Regions from separate parts of the Homo sapiens genome. Here regions 2 and 3 are each linked to region 1. Evidence: fine-mapped expression QTL. A gene starts in region 1. Each other region holds a variant in brackets. All regions are shown on one strand. Distances are between the middles of the regions. Region 1 holds the start of RCC1L (RCC1 like). Region 2 overlaps RCC1L (RCC1 like). Region 3 overlaps CASTOR2 (cytosolic arginine sensor for mTORC1 subunit 2).

Region 1 (4,192 bases):
GCTTGAACCTGGGAGGCAGAGGTTGCAGTGAGCCAAGATGGCGCCACTGCATTCCAGCCTGGGTGACAGAATAAGACTCTGTCTCAAAAACAAAACAAAACAAAACAAAACAAAAAACACCACCATCTCTTAGCGCGGTAGGTAAGTTGACAGATCTCCTTAGTTTTGAATCCTGGCCCCATCCTTACCAACTGTGTGATCTGAGATAGATTACTTTACCTCTATATCTGTTTCTCCTTCTCTAAAAAGTAAAGATGATAATAGTACCATCTCTCTCACTAAGCTGTTGTGAAGACTAAACGAGTTAATATAGCTAAAGCCCTTATAGGGAATAGTACCCATCTCAAGGTAAGAGCTATATTTTGAGCCTAGGCAACAAAGTGACAACCTGTCTCTATGAAAAAATCAAAATTTAAGCTTGGTCCCAGCTACATGGGAGGCTGAAGCAGGAGGATCACTTGAATCCAGGAGGTCGAGGCTGCAGTGACCCATGATCACGCCACTGTACTCCAGCCTGGGCAACAGAGCCAGATCAAAAAAAAAAAACAAACCTATATTTTGTACTCTATTTTGTATTTTAAATTTATACATATACATATACATATACATATATATATATATATATATATATATATATGGAGAGAGAGAGAGACAGAGAGATGAGTTCTCACTGTGTTACCCAGGCTGGTCTCAAACTCTTGAACTCAAATGATCCTCCTGCCTTGGCCTCCCAAAGTGCTGAAATTACAGGCATGAGCTACCGCACCTGGCCTATATTGTATGCTTTTTGTTGTTGTTGTTTAGTTTTTGTTATTGCTTTTGTTATTATATTTTCTATTTCTTATTGCTGTTAGCAGTAGTATAAGGCAGATGAGAAAGTGTGGCTTCTAAAGGTTGAGTAACTTGACTGCATGCTTTTCACTGACACTACACCGTTACGTACTCAGGCTATTACCATGAAAAGGAAAACTCAGTACTACAGCTACTGTGAATTTAACACAGTGACAACCCCAAGGTCTTTGTTGGGTGTTTTAACTACACTCTCATCAATCCTCCCTTCACTGACCCGATGAGAAAACCGGGGCTTCCAGTGAGGTTGGATATAGACCAAAGATGGTTTGATTTTAAAATCAATCCTCTTTCAGCCAGGCACAGTGGCTCACGCCTGTAATCCCAGCACTTTGGGAGGCCAAGGCGGGCGGATCGCTTGAGTTCAGTTCAAGACCAGTCTAGCAAACATGGCGAAACCCCATCTCTACTAAAAATACAAAAATTTGCCGGGCTAGGTGGCAGGACGATCTCTTGAGCCCAGGAGGTCGAGGCTGCAGTGAGCTATGATGACACCACTGCACTCCAGCCTGAGCGACAGAGCGAGACCCTGTCTCTAAAAAATAAATTAAAACAAAAAAATCCCCTTTCTGAGTTGTTCATTGAAACACCTCAGCTGGTATACATTTTCAATGGACTTTTGAATTTTGCTTTCCTAACATCAGAACTCCTGCAGTCACGCTGGCCTGAGTGAGAATTCCACCGCATATAAACAGCTAGCAGCGGTGGGGCCTCGGGCCTCAACCTCTCTGGGCCTCCCCTTCCTTCCCTGTAATTGGGAATAACTGTCGACTCACTGGGTGCTAAGCGAATGACACGACCCGGCACAACATCTGGCACTGCCACCCAATAAATGTTGATGGCCACCCCTAACGCCTTCCCCTCCTGGGCTTGCAGCCAGCTCGAGGGTCGTCCTGCCGGAAGTCTGTCCACCCAGAGGAGCCAACTTCTTGAAGAGAGCCGAACAGGTCGAGGGAGGCCGGGAGCGCGGAAGAGAGAGAAGGAGAGAAGGAGGAAGCCGCGGCCTGCACCTTTTGGTCCAGCTCCAGGCGATAGGGCACGGGCTGGATCCTGCGGCGCGGTCGGGCGCCGGCGCGGGGCCCGGGCCCGGAGCTGGGCACCACAAAGGAAGGCACGCCCAGCGCCCCCGAGAAGCTGAAGCCCCACACGAAGACGCGATCGGCGCGGGCAGCGCGCTCGCCCACGTACTGGACCACGGGCACCTCCGCCTCGGCTTCTGCCGCTTCGCGCCGGCTCCGGGAGCGCCCGGCCGCCGTCCAGTGCCCTCGCCCCAGCCCCGGCCCGCTCAGCCGCCGCCCCAGCCGAGCCCCAGCCACCAACGCCACCAGCGCCATCCTCCGTTCCGCGCCTCAGCAGCCTCTGGGCGCCGCCATCTTGCGTGACCCTTAACACCAGTCCTCGCCGGAAGAGGCTACGGCCACTTTTACTCCTGGTTGAAGGCAAAGGCGCTGACGGCAGCCCAAGGCTCAGGGAGGCGTGGCGTGGCGATGGTGAGGGGCGGGGTTAGGGGCGGGATTAGGATTCTTGTCCCTTAGCGAAACTGCGTGTCCTGTTTTGCTCCCTTGCTATTGCCCCGCGACATTTCTTACCTGGCCTTGCTGCAGCCGTCTCCGCTCCGGTCTGCTCCCACGCCGCCCCAGGCCGTCCTCCAGCGACAGCGAGCTGGAGTGGACGATTCCCTGCTGCCTTCGCATCCCCTGCCCAGGTCCCCTCAAACCTATCGACAGGCTCACTGCAACCTCCCCCTCCTGGGTTCAAGTGACTCTCGTGTCTCAGCCTCCCGAGTAGCTGGGACCACAGGCGTACGCCACCACGCCCGGCTAATTTTTGTATTTTTAGTAGAGACAGGGTTTCACGATGTTGGCCAGGTTGGTTTTGAACTCCTGACCTCCAGTGATCCACCCACCTCGGCCTCCCAAAGTGCTGGGATTACAGGCATAAGCCACCGCCCCCAGCCTGTGCAGGCCTGTTTTATGGAAGATGACTGGGGAAAACCCACTAATAAAATGTGGTGACCACAAGACTGCTCATGGAAAGCCTCTTACTACAGGGAGTAAAATTCATGAAGGCACTGAAACCACCAGTCTCCCGGGCTATGAAATGTATTCTCTGCGGCGGACCCAGTCTTCCAGCACTTTGGAAGACAAAGGTGGGAGAATCACTTGAGAGTTCGAGACCAGCCTGGGCAAATAGTGGGACCCTTTCTCTACAAAAAAATTTAAAAATTAGCTCGGCGTGATGGTGTGCACCTGTGGTGCCAGCTACTTAGGAGACTGAGGCAGGTGGATGGCTTAAGCCCAGGAGTTCGAGGCTGCAGTGAGCCATGATTGCACCACTGCACTCCAGCCAGGACAGCAGAGTGAGACCCTGTCTCTGAAAAAAAAAAAAATTAAATTAAATGTAAATATAAAAGTAAAAATAAATGTGTCTATGGACCCGCCTGGTAGTAAGTTCCCTGCCACCATTTGGGATAGATAAACTTAGCCATTCACATCGGTCCCCTTACCCTGTCTCGACCCAGCCAGTATTCAATCAGAACACACACTGTTTGCCACATGGAATTGTAGATGCTAGTGCCACCTTCAAAGATGTAAAAGATTCAGAGGGGTGGTGATTCCTATCCAATGGGTAGCTCCCCATTGAGTTCACCTGTTTGGCTCCTAAAAAAACTGATGGATTGGCCAGGCATAGTGGCTCACACCTGTAATCCCAGCATTTTGGGAGGGCAAGGCAGGCACATCACGAGGTCAAGAGATGGAGACCATCCTGGCCAACATAGTAAAACCCCATTTCTACTGAAAATACAAAAATTAGCTGGGCGTGGTGGAACGCACTGTAGTCTCAGCTACTTGGGAGGCTGAGGCAGGAGAATAGCTTGAACCCGGGAGGCGGAGGTTGCAGTGAGCCGAGATCGCACCACTGCACTCCAGCCTGGCGACAGAGCGAGGCTCCGTCTCAAAAAATAAAAAAAGATGGACTGTGGTAGGGGACAGGGGACCACCATACATTTAGGCAAGTGCATGGTCCAACTCATAGCTGCTGTGTCAAGCGTGCCGTCTGTTTTTTTGTTCGTTTGTTTGTTTTTTGAGACAGAGTCTCAGTCTATCACCCAGGCTTGAGTACGGTGACATGATCTCGACTCACTGCAACCTCCGCCTCCTGGGTTCAAGCAATTCTCCTGCCTCAGCCTCCCAAGTAGTTGGGATTACAGGCGTGCACAACCACACCCGGTTAATTTTTTGTATTTTTAGTAGAGACGGAATTTCACCATGGTGGCCATGACTGGTCCCCAACTCCTGACCTCAGGTGATCTGCCCGCCTCCACCTCCCAAAGTGCTGAGAT
Region 2 (4,192 bases), 32 kb before region 1:
CCCCTGCAAACTGTCCGAGGGAGATGGGGGGGAGGCCTCCTCAAGGCTGACAACCTGGACACGCTACGTCTTCCACCCGGGTGCCTCTCTGACCTTGGTTACTGACCCCATCAGAGAGAAAGGGACAGAGTTGGTGTGTATGGAGAATGGCCTGGGGACACATGGGGTTGGTACAAGGCTCACTCCATCGCGGGTGCCATTCACGTGCTCACTAAAGCGAGAGGAGACGGGAGCTTGCAAACACTGATTTTTTGCAGGAACACGATGATCAAGCCTAGCAACCGAGCTAATGGCATAGTAGGGTTTCTATGGACGTGTGTGTCAAATGCTGGGGTTGGGGGAGGGGCGGCATTAGGGAAAGAGAGGACAGACGCTGAGATGCAGGCACAGGTGACAGCTGGGGAGAAGGCTTGGTCCACAGCAGAAGAGCTCCAACCAGGAGCCCTCGTGACCCACAGAAGGCACAGCCAAGCAGCCCTCCTGGGCAGACAGAGCCCAGCTGGAAGAAAGAAAAGACAAACCGAAGGACGTCCCTGCTTCTACACTGCTTGCTATGTCCAAAGTCAAGATCATTACTGGGGCTGGACCTGGTGGCTCACGCCTGTCATCCCAGCACTTTTGGAGGCCGAGGTGGGCGGATCTCTGGAGGTCAGGAGTTCGAGACCAGCCTGGCCAACATAACAAAATTCCGTCTCTACTAAAAATACAAAAATTAGCCGGGCGTGGTAGTGCATGCCTCTAGGCCCGGCTACTCGGGAGGCTAAGGCAAGAGAATTGCTTGAACCCAGGAGGCGGAGGTTGCAGTGAGCTGAGATCATGCCACTGCACTCCAGCCTGGGCAACAGAGAGAGACTCTGTCTCAAACAAACAAACAAAAAAGATCATTACTAGATCTGTATCTTGGTTGCCATTAGGGTGGGAGGTTTATTAAAAACTCACCTTCTCCAGAGACCCTCCATCCCCCATCCTCACCTGCCATCCCGAACCCCGCCCAGTGTGACCCGGGTCTGACCTCCAGGGGCACTTACCATCTCTAGATCAATACGTGAGTTTGATCTAGGCTTGAGTTTCACTGAGGTCGGATTACCCTGCTTCACTGCAGAGGCGACTTTAGACCCAGCCCCAGTAACGGTTTCAGGAAGGAAAAATGACACACGGTTTTCAATTTCTATTTCAAGTTTATGAGAAAATTTGACTGTAATAAACCTAAGAATGGGGTTCGCAGCCCAGGTGAAGGGCCCCTCCCCTAGATATCTGAGTGGCTGGTTCTCATGGCCGCAGGTCACAGCAAGGACACTGCTGGCTGGGTGACCATTCCACTTTAAAGTGCAGCTCTAGGCCGGGCACGGTGGCTCACGCCTGTAATCCCAGCACTTTGGGAGGCCAAGGTGAGCGGATCACCTGAGGTCAGGAGTTCGAGAACAGCCTGGCCAACACGGCAAAACCCCATCTCTACTAAAAATACAAAAATTAACTGGGTGTGGTGGCAGGCACCTATAATCCCAGCTACTCGGGAGGCTGAGATAGAATTGCTTGAACCGGGAGGCGGAGGTTGCAGTGAGCCGAGATCGCGCCACTGCACTCCAGCCTGGGCGACAGAGCGAGACTCCATCTCATAACTAACTAACTAACTAACTAACTAAATAAATAAAGGGTAGCCCTCCCGAGATCCCATCCTCTCCTCCTGCTTTCTCTC[A/G]ACGGCCCACAGAACCACTTCATATGCTGCTTCTCATTTTTCCCGTTTCCCTCCCTAGAATGTAAGCTTCACGGTGCGGGGATTTTTGTCACCACATGCCCCAGCATGAGGACAGTACTGGGCACCGATGGGGCACATGACAAGTATCTGTTGTGAACGCATTAAAGGAACGAGGTAAAGGCAGACAGGGCATGGGAGTCCAGCCTGTGACATGAGTACCAAGTATTTTCTCCCAACTGAACTGCGGGAGTAGAATCTGTTCAGAAAATATTTGTCAAGTATGGCTGGGTGCGGTGGCTCACACCTGTAATCCCAGCACTTTGGGGGACCGAGGCAGGCAGATCGTCTGAGGTCAGGAGTTCAAGACCAGCCTGGCCAACGTGGTGAAACCCCATCTCTACTAAAAATACAGAAAACAAATTAGCTGGGTGTGGTGGCGCACACTTGTAGTCGCAGCTACTCGGGAGGCTGAGGCAGGAGAATAATTTGAACCCAGGGGGTGGAGGTTGCAGTGAGCTGAGATCATGTTGCTGCACTCCAGCCTGGGCAACAAAGCAAGACTCTGTCTCAAAAAAAAAAAAAAAAAAAGAAAAGAAAAAGAAAATATTTGTCGAGTAGGACTGTCTTCTAAACTATTTTTCAGTTGAGCACGGTAGCTCACACCTATAATCCTAGCACTCTGGGAGGCCTAAGCAGGAGGATGGCTTGAGGCCAGGGGTTGGAGCCTAAGCAACATAGCAAGACCTTGTCTCTATAAAAAAATAAAATAAAAAGACCTCATCTCTATAAAAGTATTTTTCACTGGCTTCTGCCTCTGTATCAAAAGGCTTGTTTATAAAAGCAAAACTCTAAATGATCAAGTAAGATTTAAGAAGATCTCTTCAGAGCTTAAAAACCAAAAGGCAGAAAATAGACTTTATTCCAAGACAGATTTGTAAAAGATGTTTTTAAAGGGAAAGGCAAGTCACGCTACTAAATCAAACATTGTTCACAATTTCTGGATCTTCCTCCTCCGCCTGGCACTGCAGCTGAGCCTTGGCGGATATGCTCGGGGCCCTCGGCGCAGAGGAACTTGGCCTCGATTCTCTTCCTGAGGGGCTTCTTAACTTTTCCAAGCCAGGCAGTGAGCGTGGTGGGAGGCTGGGGCTGGTGCCTGCGGACAGCTCCAGATGGAATCCCAGGCCACGGTGCTTCTAGTGTCCCCCCAGCGAGCTTGCGGTGTGGCAGGCGGCCAGGAAGGGCCATGAGCAGGGTGGCCTGAATGAAAACCGAGGGCCGAAGCCAGCCTGACTCCCTCGCCTAAGCTGGGGCTCGGTCCGAGGCACACGCATGGCCTTGGCCAGACACAAACCAAGAGACTGCCATGACAGACAGAGCAGAAACCTCCCGAGCACTGTGTTCAAGCTAAGCTTTCCTAAGACGGGCTTCTCAGGCGAGACGTGACACCAGACACCGTCGCATGTTACTTGGAGAGAACAGAGACGTGCGGGCCACAGCGGCCCACCAAAGGCTGCCATCCAAGCTGAGTTCCGCAGGCCTCACCTGCAGCTGGAGAGGGACCTTGCCCTGATCCTCCTGGTAGGTACCCGCTAAGGGATTCAGGACAGAGCGTCACACTGCACGCAGGGTCCTCCGCCACCACCATCCAAGAACCCCGGGGGGCTGGCCACGCGCTGGCCTCTGCCAAGGAGTGCCAGTGGTTCCCGGGACGGGGCCGCCCAAGCAGGTGAGGGAGGTTTAGATGAATGACTTGGCCAGGGTCACCATGTGGTCCACGCCACATGCCACGTCCACAGGCTCCCCAGGCATCGTCACCTGAAAAATAAGATCCAGCATACCATGGGTGGGGGTGGCGCACCCGGAGGAGACAGGCGCTGGTGTTGGCCGACCCGGCCCTGCCTCTCAGTAGGAGACTCAGTAGGAGACAGCTTGTCTCAGCAGGAGACAGCTTGTCTCAGTAGGAGACAGCTTCTCTGAGCCTCGGCTCCCTACCCTCTGGGAATGGGGGCACTTAGGCCTCCCCAGCAGGTCCATCAGGACAACTGCGTGTGGTCATGAGGACAAGGCCATCCCAACTCCCTCCAGTCAATGGCAGCCATCACCATTCACATCAGCCTGAGAGGGCATGTCGGGCAGGAACATGGGCCTGTGTGCATCCCTGGAACCTGCACGCCCTACAGGGGCTGCTCCCCTCTGACCCTAACCCCACTAGGCTCCATGCCCCCAGGCCAGGTGTTCAGAGATCTCTCCTGGGAGCCACTGCTATGGCTCACTAAGAAGCTCCAGGGGCTGGGCGCTGTAGCTCACGCCCATAATCTCAGCACTTTGGGAGGCCAAGGCAGGCGGATCACGTGAGGTCAGAAGTTTGAGACCAGCCAGGCGTGGTGGCAGGCGCCTGTAATCCCAGCTACTCGGGAGGCTGAGGTGGGAGAATTGCTTGAACCCAGGAGGTAGAGGCTGCAGTGAGCCAAGATTGCACCACTACACTCCAGCCTG
Region 3 (4,192 bases), 50 kb before region 1:
ACAAGCGCATCCGGAGAGCTCTGGAAGATGGTCCGGATTGGAGGACAGCCCCTGGGGTTTGGTGAGTCCTGGGGGGATTACATGGGGAATTGAGGGAGCTGGCATTGCTGAGCCCATTCACATACGTTGTCCGCAGTGACTCGGCCCCTGCTGGGGGGTACAGATGGGGAGACTGAGGCTTGGGGAGCCTGAAATTTCTGTTGCTCACTGGTGTGTGGCAGCTGTACACAGGCCTCTTGGGGAAGTGCGGAGCAGGCTTCAATCGGAGTGCTTTTATTTTGCCCCCTCTTGAAATTTAATATGTTGCTTATTATTAGAAAATTAAGCAGCTGGGCGCGGTGGCTCGTGCTTGTAATCCCAGCACTTTGGGAGGCCGAGGTGGAAAGATCCATTGAGCCCAGGAGTTCTGTACCAGCCTGGGAAACATAGCGAGGCCCTGTCTCTACCAAAATTTTTAAAATTAGCTGGGCATGGTGGCTGGCGCCTGTAATCCCAGCTACTCAGGAGGCTGAGGCAGGAGGATTACTTGAGCCTAAGAGTTCAAGGCTACAGTGAGCCATGATCATGCCATTGTACTCCAACCTGGGTGACAGAGCAAATCTTTGCCTCTAAAAATAAAAAAAGAGGCTGGGCGAGTTAGCTCGTGCCTGTAATCCCAGGTCTTTGGGAGGCCGATGCAGGTGGATCACCTGAGGTCAGGAGTACCAGCCTGGCCAATATGACGAAACCCCATGTCTACTAACAATACAAAAAATTGGCCAGGCACAGTGGCGTGCGCCTGTAATCCCAGCTACTCAGGAGGCTGAGATGGGAGAATCGCTTGAACCCAGGAAGCAGAGGTTGCGATGAGCCAAGATCGCTCCATTGCACTCCTGCCTGGGCAACAGAGCAAGACTCTGTCTCAAAAAATAATAATAAATTTAATTTAAAAAAGAATAAATTGGGGCTGTGATAAAAATTAAAGAGAAAAAAAATCACTCCTTATTTCCACAGCTCAAAGATAATAACTGCTGGCAATTTTTTAACATGTTTTCTTCACGTAAATACATGTAATTGTCACATATCTCCCAGAGAGTCTGACACCCAACACTTTACTCCTAAATGCCTCGCCTTTTCCATCCTGGGAAGAAGCACCGGGCAAGGTGGCTTACGCCTGTAATCCCAGCACTTTGGGAGGCCGAGGCAGGAGGATCACAAGGTCAGGAGATCGAGATCATCCTGGCTAACACAGCAAAACCCTGTCTCTACTAAAAATACAAAAAATTAGCCGGTCGTGGTGGCAGGCGCCTGTAGTCCCAGCTACTTGGGAGGCTGAGGCAGGAGAATGGCATGAACCTGGGAGGCGGAGCTTGCAGCAAGCCGAGATGGCGCCACTGCACTCCAGCCTGGGCGACAGAGCGAGAGTCCACCTCAAAAAAAGAAAAAAAAAAGAAGAAACACTTTCTCCTATATAACCACAATGACAGGATTCCACAGGAGAAAATTTTCAGTCATTCCCTAAGACTTAGTCTTTCCTCTGTTTCCACAGTTGTCCAGACAACGTCTTTGGTGGATAGCATTTTTTTTTTCTTTTTGTTTTTTGTTTTTTTTTTTTTTGAGACCGGATCTTGCTCTGTTGCCCAGGCTGAAGTGCAATGGCGCAGTCTTCGCCTCCTGGGTTCAGCCTCCCAAGTAGCTGGGACTATAGGCACGTGCCACCACGCCCGGCTAATTCTTGTAGTTTTAGTAGAGATGGGGTTTCACCATGTTGGCCAGGCTGGTCTCGAACTCCTGACCTCAAGTGATCCACCCGCCTCGGCCTCCCAAAGTGCTGGGATTACAGGCGTGAGCCACCACTCCCAGCCAAGGTGCCACACTTTTAAATAGCCAGATCTCGTGAGGACTTACTGTCACGAGAACAGTACCAAGAGGATGAGGCTAAACCATTCATGAGGAATCCACCCTCATAATCCAGTCATCTTGCACCAGGCCCCACCTCCAATACTTGAGATTACAATTGGAGGATTTGGGCAGGAACACAAAGCCAAACTATTTCACTGGCCAGCGACCAGAGAAGGCTCCTGGTTGGGGGACATCTGGGTTAAGCCTTCAAGAGGGATGGCCAGTGGGAGGCCAGGCACGGTGGCTCACGCCTGTAATTCCAGCACTTTGGGATGTGGAGGTGGGTGGATCATTTGAGTACAGCAGTTCGATACCAGCCTGGCCAACATGGTGAAACCCCATCTCTACTAAAAATACAAAAAAATTAGCTGGGCATGGTGGTACACGCCTATAATCCCAGCTATTTGGGAGGCTGAGGCACGAGGATTGCTTGAACTCAGGAGGTGGAGGTTGTAGTGAAGTGAGCTCACGCCAGTGCACTCCAGCCTGGGCGATGGAGCGAGACTCCATCTCAAAAAAAATAAAAGGGATAGCAGATGGGAATTCTCTAGGAGGATGGTGGGTGCAGGGTAGGCATTGCCCACAGAGGGTAGAGGCTGAAGAGCCACACAGGCAAGGGTAGCCAGGTTAC[A/G]CAGAGGCTAAGGACGGTCTCTCCTGTTCTAGATGAGTGTGGCATCGTGGCCCAGATCTCAGAGCCCTTGGCTGCTGCAGACATCCCAGCCTACTACATCAGTACTTTCAAGTTTGATCATGCACTTGTGAGTGTCCAGCGCCAGACCCCTCCAGGGCAGGGCCGGGGTGGGGAAGCAGGTTCCTGGGCTCACGGGCAGGCATCTGCCTCCTCTACCCCTGCACAGGTCCCCGAAGAGAACATCAATGGTGTCATCAGTGCCCTGAAGGTCAGCCAAGCAGAGAAGCACTAGAAGGGTCTCTTCTGCTCCTCCCTGCCGCCGCCCGGGCCCAGCCCTAACCCTGAAGATTGATCTTGCAGTATTTCTCTACAGACTGGAAAATCAGCCTGGGGACCCTGAGGAAGGGGCCTCTGTGGGAGACTCCCTCGATTGCCAATCCCTCCAGGGCAGGGGCCCACGCCAAGGCCTCTCCATGCCCTCCTGCCTTCCCGGAGCCCCCCGACCCTCCAGAGAACGACCTTTCTCTTCCCTACCTCCCCCACCCCGGAAAATGCTTTCGGAGGCCCAGGGAGCTTGTGAGCTGATCCGCCTTCTCATCCGGCCTCACCCACGGCCAGGGGCAGATGCCGAGGGAAGCCGGTCCCTCCTGCGAGACACCGGTGTGCCAGCTGTCATGTCACCTTGCAGGGCTGGGGCTGGCGGGGTGGGGCCGAGTTTGGGGTGCCCTGGAGGGTTTGGGGGTGAGTACTGTGGTCACTGGTCTCTGCTTCCATCAGCTCAGGGCTGGTTCCCTCGGAGTGGAGGCCAGCGTGGCCCCCTCAGGTCATCGGGGCTGGTGAGGCTCAGACAGGAACCCAGGTGGGATCCCCGAGCTGGGAAGGACCCAGACTCCCCCTGTACCTCGCCTGCCAACCACAGGGCCTGGGCCCGACTCCCAGCAAGACTGCCAAGAGGGCCCTGTCCAGACCCTCCCCCACAAGCACTCAGTCCTTGGGGGAGGAGGGAGGGTCCCAGGAGACCCACCAGCCTGGAGCACCAGCTCCTGTCCCCTCGGCTCTCCCTGGACCCGACTTGGGCAGGTAGAGCCTCAGCTTCCCCCAGTAGGGACATCCCTGGCTTTCCAGGCCTGAGGTTTCTTAGGTGGTGTCCCACCTCCCCAACAGACAACTAGACCAGCATAGGACTCCCCGCCGTCCTCCTCCCTCCTCTGCCCCCAAGTCACCTGCCTGCCCACCCGCCCCTTGGCTGGGGGCTGTGGCATTCATGAGTACTTGACCCAGGAGGCAGCTTAACTGAGCCTTAATAGAGAAAACCATACTTTGTTTTAGTTTTTTATTTAATGTATTTGCACCCAGGGTGCTCTTGGCGGTAGTTTCTGTTTGGCAGGGATAGGACCTGTTTGAGTTCTGTCAAGGGAGCCTGGAGGCTCTGTGTCACTAAGCTGGTGCTCTGTGGCTCCAGGGACAGGCAGTGGGAATCGGGAGATGTCACAGGAGCCTGGGCCCTCTCTTCTGAAGGGAAGCTAGGAGCAGAGATCTGTTACAAGACGCTGGAGCCGCTGGCACCCCACATGGGAACTCCCACCAACCAGCTGTAGTTCTATCTGAGCACCGGAGGGGGTGAGGGAACCCGAGGGCCATGGGGAGGTGGACAGCCAGGTGGCAGGCCAGCTGAGTGGT

The links.
Region 2: its variant is fine-mapped to the expression of RCC1L in whole blood (INTERVAL, PIP 0.96).
Region 3: its variant is fine-mapped to the expression of RCC1L in whole blood (INTERVAL, PIP above 0.99).

The regions. Positions count from the first base shown.
Region 1 is chr7:75,071,555-75,075,746 of GRCh38, forward strand. RCC1L (RCC1 like) reads right to left here and starts at 2,248. Exons shown (of 11, transcript NM_030798.5): 1 at 1,860-2,248. The coding sequence starts at 2,183. RefSeq lists a silencer at 1,934-2,153.
Region 2 is chr7:75,039,599-75,043,790 of GRCh38, forward strand. It overlaps RCC1L (RCC1 like), which reads right to left. Exons shown (of 11, transcript NM_030798.5): 11 at 2,585-3,511. The coding sequence ends at 3,434. Among named protein-coding and RNA genes, the nearest start is that of RCC1L, 32 kb to the right of the region's middle. The variant A/G (reference allele first, on the strand shown) is at 1,697.
Region 3 is chr7:75,021,896-75,026,087 of GRCh38, forward strand. CASTOR2 (cytosolic arginine sensor for mTORC1 subunit 2) reads left to right here. Exons shown (of 9, transcript NM_001145064.3): 7 at 1-61; 8 at 2,545-2,639; 9 at 2,739-4,192. The coding sequence ends at 2,804. Among named protein-coding and RNA genes, the nearest start is that of RCC1L, 50 kb to the right of the region's middle. The variant A/G (reference allele first, on the strand shown) is at 2,513.